2 separate regions of the Homo sapiens genome follow, and region 2 is linked to region 1. Evidence: fine-mapped expression QTL. A gene starts in region 1. The other region holds a variant in brackets. All regions are shown on one strand. Distances are from middle to middle.

What was found. PIP is the estimated chance that this variant, and not a neighbour inherited with it, causes the effect. A credible set is the group of variants that fine-mapping cannot tell apart.
Region 2: its variant is the best candidate, but not a certain one, in a credible set for the expression of TPD52L1 in gastroesophageal junction (GTEx, PIP 0.53).

The regions. Positions count from the first base shown.
Region 1 is chr6:125,151,408-125,156,791 of GRCh38, forward strand. It overlaps TPD52L1 (TPD52 like 1), which reads left to right and starts at 2,366. Exons shown (of 7, transcript NM_003287.4): 1 at 2,366-2,563. The coding sequence starts at 2,545. RefSeq lists an enhancer at 3,162-3,749.
Region 2 is chr6:125,177,504-125,182,887 of GRCh38, forward strand. The region is part of intron 1 of TPD52L1 (TPD52 like 1); the gene reads left to right. Among named protein-coding and RNA genes, the nearest start is that of TPD52L1, 26 kb to the left of the region's middle. The variant C/G (reference allele first, on the strand shown) is at 2,792.

The DNA of each region.
Region 1 (5,384 bases):
CACATTTTGGTAATTCTCACAATATTTCAAGCTTTTTCATTATATTATATCTGTTATGGTGATCTGGGATGAGTGATCTTTGATGTTACCATTGTAATTATTTTGGGGAACCCTGATCCATGCCCATATAAGACAGTGAATTGAATCAATAAATCTTGTGTGTGTTCTGACTGCTCCACCAGCCAGCCATTTCCCCATCTCTCTCCCTCTTCTTAGGCCTCTCCATTCTCTGAGACACAACAATATTGTAGTTACGCTCATTAATAACCCTACAATCGCCTCCAAATATTCACATGAAAGGAAGAGTCACATGTCTCTCACCTTAAATCGAAAGCTAGACATGATTAAATTTAGTGAGGAAGGCATGTTGAAAGCTGAGATAGGCCAAAAGCTAGGTCTCTTGTACGAGTTATTCAAGCTGTGAATGCAAAAGAAAACTTCTTGAAGGAGAGTAGAAGTGCTACTCCAGTGAATACACAAACGATAAGGAAGTGAAACAGTTTTCTTGCTGATATGGGGAAAGTTTGAGTGGTCTGGATCAAACCCGATCAAAGCAGTCACAACATTCTCTTAACCACAGCCTAATCCAGGGCAAAGCCCTCACTCTCTTCAATTCTATAAAGCCTGAGAGAGGTGAGGAATCTGTAGAAGAAAAGTTGGAAGCTAGCAGAGACTGGCTCATGAGGCTTAAGGAAAGAAGTCATCTCCATAACATGAATGTAAGGTGAAGCAGCAAGGGCTGATGTCAAAGCTGCAGCAAGTTCTCCAGAAGATCTGGCTAAGATCATTGATGAAGGTAGCTACACGAAACAACACATTTTCAATACGGATGAAACAGCCTTATATTGGAAGAAGATGCTACCAAGGACTTTTACAGCTACAAAGAAGTCAATACCTGGTTTCAAAGCTTCAAAGGACAAACTGACTCTCTTGTTAGGGGCAAAAGTAGCTGGTGACTTTACATTGAAGCCAAAGCTCATTTACCATTCTGAAAATTTTAAAGCCCTTAAGAATTATGCTAAATATATTCCACCTGTGCTCTATAAATGGAACAACAAAACTTGAATGACAGTACATCTGTTTACAGCATGGTTTATTGAATATTTTTAAGCCCACTATTAAGACTTACTGCTCAAAAAATGTTTCTTTCTAAATATTATTGCTTAATATTGGTTAATAATATACTTTGTCACTCAACAGTTGATGGAGATGTACGAAGAGATTAATGTTGTTTTCATGCCTGGCAAAACAACATTCATCTTGTAGCCCATGGATAAAGGAGTAATTTTGACTTTCAAGCCTTATTATTTAAGAAATAAATAGATAGCTGCCATTAATAGTGATTCTTCTGTTGGATGTGGGCAAAGTAAATTGAAAACCTTCTGGAAAAGATTCACCATTCTAGATGCCATTAAGAACATTTATAATTCGTGGGAGGAAGTCAAAACGTCAACATTAACAGGAGTTTGGAAAAAGTTGATTCCAACCCTCCTGAATGACTTTGGGAGTTCAGGACTTCAAAGCAGGAAGTAACTGCAGATATGGTAGAAATAGCAAGAGAACTAGAATTAGAAGTGGAGCCTGAATATGTGAGTAAATTGCTCAATCTCATAAGACTTGAATGGTTGAGGAGTTGCTTCTTATGGACAAGCAAAGAAAATGGTTACTTGAAATGGAATCTACTCCTGGTGAAGTTGTTCACAGCATTGTTGAAATGACAGCAAAAGATTTATAATTATATAAACTTAGTTGATAAAGCAATGGCAGGGTTTGAGATGATTGACTCCAATTTTGAAAAAAGTTATAATGTAGATAAAATGCTATCAACCAGCATTGCATGCTACAGAAAAATCTTTCATAAAAGGAAGAGTCAATTGATGCAGCAAACTTCATTGTTGTCCCATTTTAAGAAATTGACACAGCTATTGCAGCCTTCAGCAATCACTACCAGGATCAATCAGCAGCCATCAACATCCAAGCAATGCCTTCCACCACCAAAAAGATTCCCATTAGGTGAAGATGATCTTTAGCATTTTTTAGAAATAAAATATCTTTTTAAGTTAAGGTAGGTACATTGCTCTTTCTAGACATCGTGCTATTGCATACTTAACAGACTACAGCATAGTGCAAACGTAACTTTTATATGCATTAGGAAACTGAAAAATTCGTGTGACTCGTTTTGTTGCAATACTCGCTTTATTGCGGGGGTCTGGAACCTAACCTGCAATATCTCTGCGTTATGCCCTTATAGCGCCGGGAGTGGGTGCCTTCCGCCGGCTGTACAGAGCGCCGGCAGGTGGCGCCCAGCGGCGAGCTTGTTCCAGCTTGGTTTGGGCCAGGTGGACTGGAAGGGGCGGAGGTAACCAGAAGCGGCTAGTGGCGGCTGCCTGCGTCCCCAACCCCCTCCGCGCAGCGCTCGCGACACGCGTGCCAGGAGTGGGAGCGAGCGGCGGGGCCAGCTGCGTTCTGAGCCTGGGCGCAGCTGCCATCTGCTCTGGGAAGCACCAGGGTGTCCCCGCCGCCCTCAGCTCGAAGTCAGCCACCATGGAGGCGCAGGCACAAGGTGAGTGGTCGCCGATCGCCCCGAGAGTCAGGTCCTGGGGCGCGCATAAAGGCTCTTTTCCTGCACCACCTAACTTCGCTCTCGGACAGAACAGATTGGTGCCGTGTTGCACATCCAGAACTCCACTCCCACCCGCGCCTTTGGTATAATGCCTGCTGCCCAAACTCAGGATTTGCTGTGGGTCTGGGGATCAATAAAGTGACAGGGGATCCGTAAGTGGAGAGGCCCCTCCTCAGGAAATGCGCCCGTGGAATGCTCTACCCTCTTCCGCAGCCAGTCGCCCCTGGCCTTCCCAACCTCGCGGCTGCCCGAAGGACCTGTTGTGCCGGGTCCGGAAAGCGTGTTTCGCTCCCTTTCCCTTGAGGGAGTGGGGAGGGAATGTGACTCTTTTCGCCCAGCGCCGTGGACTCGCGGCTTGTGGCTCCCAAGTTAGGGAGTGAGAGGATCGCCCGCCGAGGGGGTGGCTCCGCAGCCCGGCTGCGCGAGACGCTTCCCGCTCGGGGACCCGCCTTCCGAGGCCAGGTGAACGTTACCGGCCCCCTGACCTCCAGCAGATCCACACGTGAGTCCCGGTTTCCGCGATCGGGGAGCGACCTCTGCCTCCCGTGGCGCGCGGGGCCCCCGGCCGCCCAGCTCCCTGCTCCCGGGGCTGCCTGCTGGAGGAGCCTGCGGTGGCTTCAGGAAGGGCGGCCTCATATCTTGGGGTCACACTTGGAACAGGGTTGGGGAATTCCGATGGAATCGTTCAAGAATGGGGGTAAACGGACCGTGGAAAGGGGCAGAGGTGGGCGGATGTGGAGCGAGAGACAAGTGGGAAGGAAACGGACTCAGTGATCTACCTTGGGGAGCAACGCCCAGAAGGGATGGCTTGCGGAGTTCAGCCTTTAAGGCAATCAAAGCCACCATTCTTTTACACAGTAGGAAACTCTGTGTTGGCTCTTAGTATAGATAAAATCTCATTAAAAAGAAAAAAAAAAAGGTTCATGACCTGATGCGCTCGCCCTCTAGGGGCAGAACGCCCTGAATGAGAGTGGGTTGGCGATTGCGTGGGCCTGGAGTCGCCCAACAGGTTTGCTGCCAGGATTACAATTGTCTGAACAGCACGAACCTTACTCGTTTGTTCCATCCTCCTAAGTCCTGCCCGTAAAGCTGCCGCTTCCCATATTTTTTCCTCTATTATGTAGATAGGAAATGATAATTCAACCAAGGGTGAGGGCAGTTGGTCAAATTCAAAAGCAGAGGTCAGGTTGGAGGCCTTCACGCCAGAACTGAAGCTGGTGGGAGCAGCACCGGAGCTTTCCAACCTGACTTGCATATTAGAATTATTTAGAGAGTCTTCATTACTGGCCTTGGCCAACCCCATCCCAGTCAAACTGGAATCTTTGGAACCTGAACATGGGTATATTTGAAAGCTTATATTAGTGAGGATGGAGAAGAACTATAGCAGATAGGAAACATTCATACAACTTCTGAAGACATCCGAAACTACAGACTGGTAACCACTGGTGTCACTGGTTTGCTTTATTGCTTTGCTTTACTTCCAAGATTTACTTAACAAATATTTCAGTGCTTTCCTTTGCCAAGCACTGTGCTAAGAAGAGCAAAGACAGACTTGGTATCTGCTTCATAAAATTTACAGTAGAGGAAGAGACAAATATTAATTTGATAGCTATTTGAAAAATAACATGTAAAATCACTGCCATGCTGATGCTAAGAAAGGGCCTCATAGTGCAGCGAGAGCCTGAAAAACTATAACCCTAGTATGCAATAATCAGAAGAGCAGATTGTTTATTGTGTCCCTGTCTCTGTTCTTCGTGCTTTGCATGTATTGATGGACTCATTTCCTGTGCGCAGCAGTCCCATGAGGTAGTTCATATTCTCATTCCCATTCTACAGAGAGGAAACAAGCATGGAAGGTATTAGGTTGGTGCAAAAGTAATTGCAATTTTTGCCATGACTTTTTAATAAGTTCCTTGTTTACAGCCAGATAGGTAAAAAGTAGCAAAGTGGATGCTGTGAGGGACCCATTCTCACTCAAAGCCTATGACTTTTGGAGGAAAGGTAAAACTTCAGTCCCCACCTGAATCTCCAGCTGTCCTGTGGTGCTCTTCCTTTCCCCTCATGACTGGATGGAAACTTTAGGTGTAAAGAGGACTAGTAAAAAGGCAAATGGATATGAGAAAAGTGAACAGATTTAATAAATACTTAAGAGGCCAGGTGCAGTGGCTTACACTTGTAATCCCAGCACTTCGGGAGGCCAAGGTAGGAGGATCACTTAGAGCCCAGGAGTTCGAGACCAGCCTGGACAACATAGAGAGACCTCATCTCTACAAAAAATAAACAGAATTAGCTGAGTGTGGTGGCATGTGCCTGTAGGCCTAGCTACTTGGAAGGCTGGAGTGGGAGGATTGCTTGAGGTCAGAAGTTTGTGGCTACAGTGAGCCAAAATCCCAGCATTGCACTCTAGTCTGGACAAGAGTGAGACCTTGTCTCAAAAAAAAAAAAAAAAAGAGAGAGATACAAAAAAGGCCAGCCACACCTGTAATTCCAGCACTTTGGGAGGCTGGAGGAGACAGATTTTTTGAGCCCAGGAGTTTGAGATCAGCCTGGGCAACATGGTGAAACGCTGTCTCCACAAAAAATACAAAAATTAGCTGGGTGTGGTGGTGCGTGCCTGTATCCCAGCTATTTGGGAGGTTGAGGTGGGAGGATCACCTGAGCCCAGCAGGTGGAGGCAGCCGTGAGCTGTGATTACATCACTGCACCCCAGCTTGGGCGAGAGGGCAAGACTCTGTCTCAAAAACAGATAAACAAAAAGAGA
Region 2 (5,384 bases), 26 kb after region 1:
GATGAGGAGATTGGCCTGAGCTAGTATCTTATACATGGGAAAACCAGAAAAAGAACTGAGGTTTTCTTACTACAGCCCTGTGATCCTTTCTCTGTATTATCAGCCCTTCACCTTCTGCAGCACATTGCAGTTATTCATCCATATGTCTTATTGAAGAGACTGTTTAGAGGCTTATTTTTAATTAAAAAGTTAACATTTTTAAATTAAAGTTTCAGGTTTAGAAAATTTCCACTTTTAAGTGAAGCTTGCAAGTGTTATACTATTTATAAAATTAACAAACCATTACTTTTAAAGCGACTTTGATAAATATGATATTTAAATAGTATGATATTAACTGATATACACATTCAATTAATATACTCAATTTCATATTTAAGCACTTCAATTTTCTATTTGACTAGCCTTCCTAAGTACTTAAATCTTATAAATTTAAAAGCTAAGTATATAAAAAGTGAATCTAAAAATTCTCTTTAGCTGTTTCAATATTACTTACAAATTTAGTAACATTTCCACTTAAAAATCCCAAGTTTAAGCCATTAACCAAATTAAACATTTAAAATTATAATTATAAGCCTGATAGTCTCTCAATAGACCATATTCTTTCGATCATAATATAAAATAACAAATATTCAAGTGCCTTGTCACAAAACGACTAGTTCTATGATTTTGCTTTATTTATTTCTTCATTCAATAATTATCTAAAATATACCTGTGTGCCAGGCAATACTCTAGGCTCTAGATAAACATTAGCAAACAAAATAAAAATTTCTATTCTTGTGAGGCTCAAATTCTAAGGAAGGGGCAAATAGTAAGCAACATAAATTAGTAAAAAACATAGGCCAGGTGTGGTGGCTCATGCCTGTAATCCCACCACTTTGGGAGGCTGAGGTAGGAGGATCACAAGGTCAGGAGTTCAAGACCAACCTGGCCAATATGGTGAAACCTTGTCTCTACTAAAAATACAAAACTTAGCCAGGCGTGGTGGCACATGCCTGTGGTCCCAGCTACTCAGGAGGCTGAGGCAGGAGAATCGCTTCAACCCGGGAAGTGGAGGTTGTGGTGAGCCAAGATCACACCACTGCACTCCCGCCTGGGCGACAGAGTGAGACTCCATCTAAAAACAAAACAAAACAAAACAAAACAAAACAAAACAAAATATATATATATATATATTTGGGTAAATGTTAAAGAAAAAATCAATGAAGGCAGGATGTGAAATGTGAGGGATGGGTGGAATGGTGGTTGCAGATGATGCTACCTTTTTCTAGGATTAATACTCTGCACAAAGACCTTATTAATTAATTTAGGCTACTTCCCAATAGAGAGGTGTTACATTCTGAGTACACTTGAGGTTGTACAAGGACTGGAGATTTGGCTTGTTATGTTGACTGGATTCCCACTGGTGACTCTGGTGAATACTCTGAACTTATTATTGTTTGTCCACAACTCCCTGACTTCCAAAGGGAAACTTGTAGCCCTACATTATTTGATTGGATTTTGTATGTCTTTGGCTCTTAAAATAATGTAAACAGACTTCCCACCCAAGTGGAACTACCTTTGACACAGCCCTGAAGTCCTTCAGATTCTTCAGACCACTCAGTCTTAACAGACATATCTGGCTGAATTCTGGGCATCCCTCTTGGTTTTGTCCTGAAATGTGGACACAATTTTCCCAGTCACTTTCCTGATTAATTTTAGCTCTCCAAGAGGATGGAGAACTTCAAGAGGACAAATACTATTATGTCTTAGCTCTGTTTTGTTTCTCATTTATTACTGTGTCCTGCAGAACACAATGGGTTTACCCAAGTAGTCCCTCAATACATGTTGTTTAAAGCAGAATAGTGCAGCTCAATGACATAGGGTCATGTCCCACTCAGCCTCTTGATTGCAGGCAACTGCTCAAAAACTGGACTTCCTCAAGTGTGAAAAGGAATTATAAGAATCCCTATGTGTCCCAAAGCACTGTCTAAACTAAGAACCACTCTATGAATGCTAGTTTTCCTTACTATTAATGGTTTAATGCTTATTTTAAAAATCCCTCAAAGCATTTCACAAGCAGATAGTCCCTTTCCCTTTGTATTTAGGCTTCAGGATAATATGAGCGGTACCACTGTTTTATTTTTACAATACTGATCATTTTATCATGCCTGTTGTATATTCAGGTGTAAGTTCTTTTTCACAGGATAGCTTCAATATGTCAGGATGAACTTTCATTTATTTATTTTCATTCAATAGAACTAACTAAATTCTTTTTCTGTTCATTCAGTTATCCCACTCTAAATACCAGGGTTCTCTTTATAGATGGAAATGTGAAGAAGGCAGCTCTTACTTAAAGGGAGTTTTTTTCTGCTCTCATGCACTATACCATTATTTGGGCATTCTAAGGAAAATTCAGGAGTGGTTTTTTAAGAGGGCTGTGTTGCTCTGGGGAGCATCATCTTGACAATCTTGTTAAGGGAGGGTGTTTGAAAGCCACTTCAACTAGAAAACTTACTTTCTACCTGGAGTCTGAGTGCACCTGTATCCATCACTGGACGGAACTCTGATGCTGTCCTGACAATGCCCTTTCATGACCTTAACCTGTGGCTCTGGTCATCACTGTTCCTCAGTTCTCACTCTATCACATGGGTAACTGTTGTACTCAGAGGCTTTGGGAGTCCTCAAATGTCTCACTTTCCCTCTGTCATTTTAAAAACTGCTGCACAGCCCTTGTTTATTTCTATGTAATTATTACTTCATCATATATGATGTTATAAGCCAATTTGATTCTTTTTTGGGGAGAAGGTGGAAG[C/G]GAAGGAAGATAGGAAAAGAAAGTCAGGCTCGTACTATTACATTTTCACAGATTTATTTGAAATTGAGTCTTTCCCAGAATTATCTACCACCTCTTATGGTCAGTTTGACACAGTTAATGCCAAGCACAGTTTATAACTTTTTAAAATTGATCAAAAATTACCCTAACTTTGAAGGTCCTGAAATTACTGACACATATAAGAATTTGCAAATTAAATGTGGCACACAGTTTTTAAATATACATTTACCATACACACACACACATATATTATATATACACACACACACACACACACACACACTCACACACACACAGAGAGGGAGAGCTATTTAGCCTTTTCTTGATAGAGGACGTAAAGGAGAGTGTTAATTACCCCATTCTGGAGAATTCAACTTACAATGGAAAACATGAAGGAGAGCTGTTTAACATCTGCATAAAACACTTGTTTCCTGGTCCTTCTAATGATGCATTCAGGTATGAAAAATGTTTTCTATTTACTTGTTCAGAATTATTTTAAATAAAGGAAGAAAATCACAGCAGCTTCCTGCTTCGGAGGCCCACAGAGTTGCAGCCAAATGACTTGCTATTATCATAGGTCTTTATGTTTGCTGAATGCTTTTCAGTATATCTGATTGTATTCACAGCCCTTTCTGGTGGCATGAAGGAGGCTGGTGTTGCTCTTGTGCAGATTACAAAGCTAGAACCAGAGGAAGGGGAAGAAATGATGGCTTAAGGCATTCTTAGAAGTTGGGTTCGAGCCTACAGTTTGTTTTTCTCTTTAAGATCTGGAAAGGTGAAGAATCTGATGGCAGTGAACCCAGTAATGAATACGATGTTAATATTATAATGTTATTTATTTTATTTACTTATATACTATAGTAATTAATTTGTAGTAATTAAGTAGTAAACCTGATAATATCTGATCTAAATGATTAGCATAAAGAACTATGTCAAGATCAAAATTCAGGATGACTAAGAGGTCAGAACATAAGATACTCACGCAGAAGGATGTAGGAATAACCAAGAGAACTGAATGACCTCTCTAAGAGCACCAAGAAACATTTACGCCAGGATACACAAAGAACTAAGACATTTGAGGGGTTTGGCGATGGTGTCAAGAGGTGCTCGCTGTTTTACATTATTATGTATATGCTGTCCATTTTCTAGAGAGCATAGAGATAGAGGAAACAAAACTGAGACTTAATCAACATCATGGGATTTAAATATCAAACTATGAACAGATAAAGAATGCATGTGTTTTACACGAGTACTGAGGAAAGACCTAAATTGAAGCATGTGTTATTTTACGATAATATTTATTTACTCACAAACATTTGGTAAACATCTTCCTTGTGCTAGGCCATGCATAGATTCTGGGGATACATAGTGTTTTTCTGATGAACTAGAATGGATGCTAAATTGTATCAGCACAGATAACTCTGAATATCTAGGACTTGCCAGTTTACATTGGCGTGGTGCAAGCCATAGATCTTTGGACATATTGTCTTCTCCCAGATCATCAAAGGCCAAGATTTTCCAGGATAACTGGGAGCAAGTCAGTATTAGATTCTGCACTGACTCCACGAACCAAGGTGTTTCAGGGATATTAGGATAATTTTAGGGCAATGGAGTTTGATTTGGAAAGTTGGCTTTGCACAGCCACTCCCCAGATGGCCCTGGTCTAGATCACCCCTTCATGTCAGTTTTTATGGACAAGGCTTCCCCTCGGATACCTCTGGCATTAGGGAGGCACAGATGTACTTCTCTGCAGCTGTACTTTCTAGAAACCAGGTAAGGATAATGACCAAGAGCCACTTGAAAGGCAGGTAGGTATAGATGATGAGTAACTGCCTGGGGCCTTTTAAAAGCTAATATTTATAAACATATATTACTTGGCTGGGCATCATACAAACCAATTTAAACCAATTCTGTGCTTTCTCTAGGGCAGATGTGCAAACATCAGAAGCATGTAGAGCCCAGGGAAAGCATGCAAACACTGATCAAGTGCACAGCGCTGTGTGACTTTTGTCACTTTTCATGATGTATAAGCACAGCTGCCTTTTTTAGGAATCGTGAGCTGGAGTCGTGAGCAAAGTGTTGCAGGAGTAGCATTTTTCAGGAGAGTGAGGTGCTGATGAGTGTTACCCTCTCTGGTAGTCAGGAGAGGATCATTGAGGGGGTGGTTTTTGAGAGTTGGTTTAAGGTAGAAAGGGAGGGAACCTGCCATCTGGAAGTGTGATGATGTTCCAGGCATTGGGTACAGCTTCTTAAAGTGGCCTTTGCTTCTGGAGTAAATGAAAAAAGGGGACATTTAGTTAACTTGACTGAGAGAAGCTGAGAGAGCCAGGCTGTTGAGAGCACTTGATTAGCTGTCAGATACCATTCTCCCTACAGTTTCTTGGCCTCCCAGCCCTGAAGAACTGTCAGTAAATATTGCCATACAGGATCGATTCCATTTAATCTTTTCCAAACCACAACTGTGCAGTAGGTGATGGCATCATCATTTCACAGACGAGTAAACAGAGGCCCAGGGAACTTAAGCAGCTTGTGTGCCAAGTATTTAAAAATTACTGTGTGTTTACATATCACATAT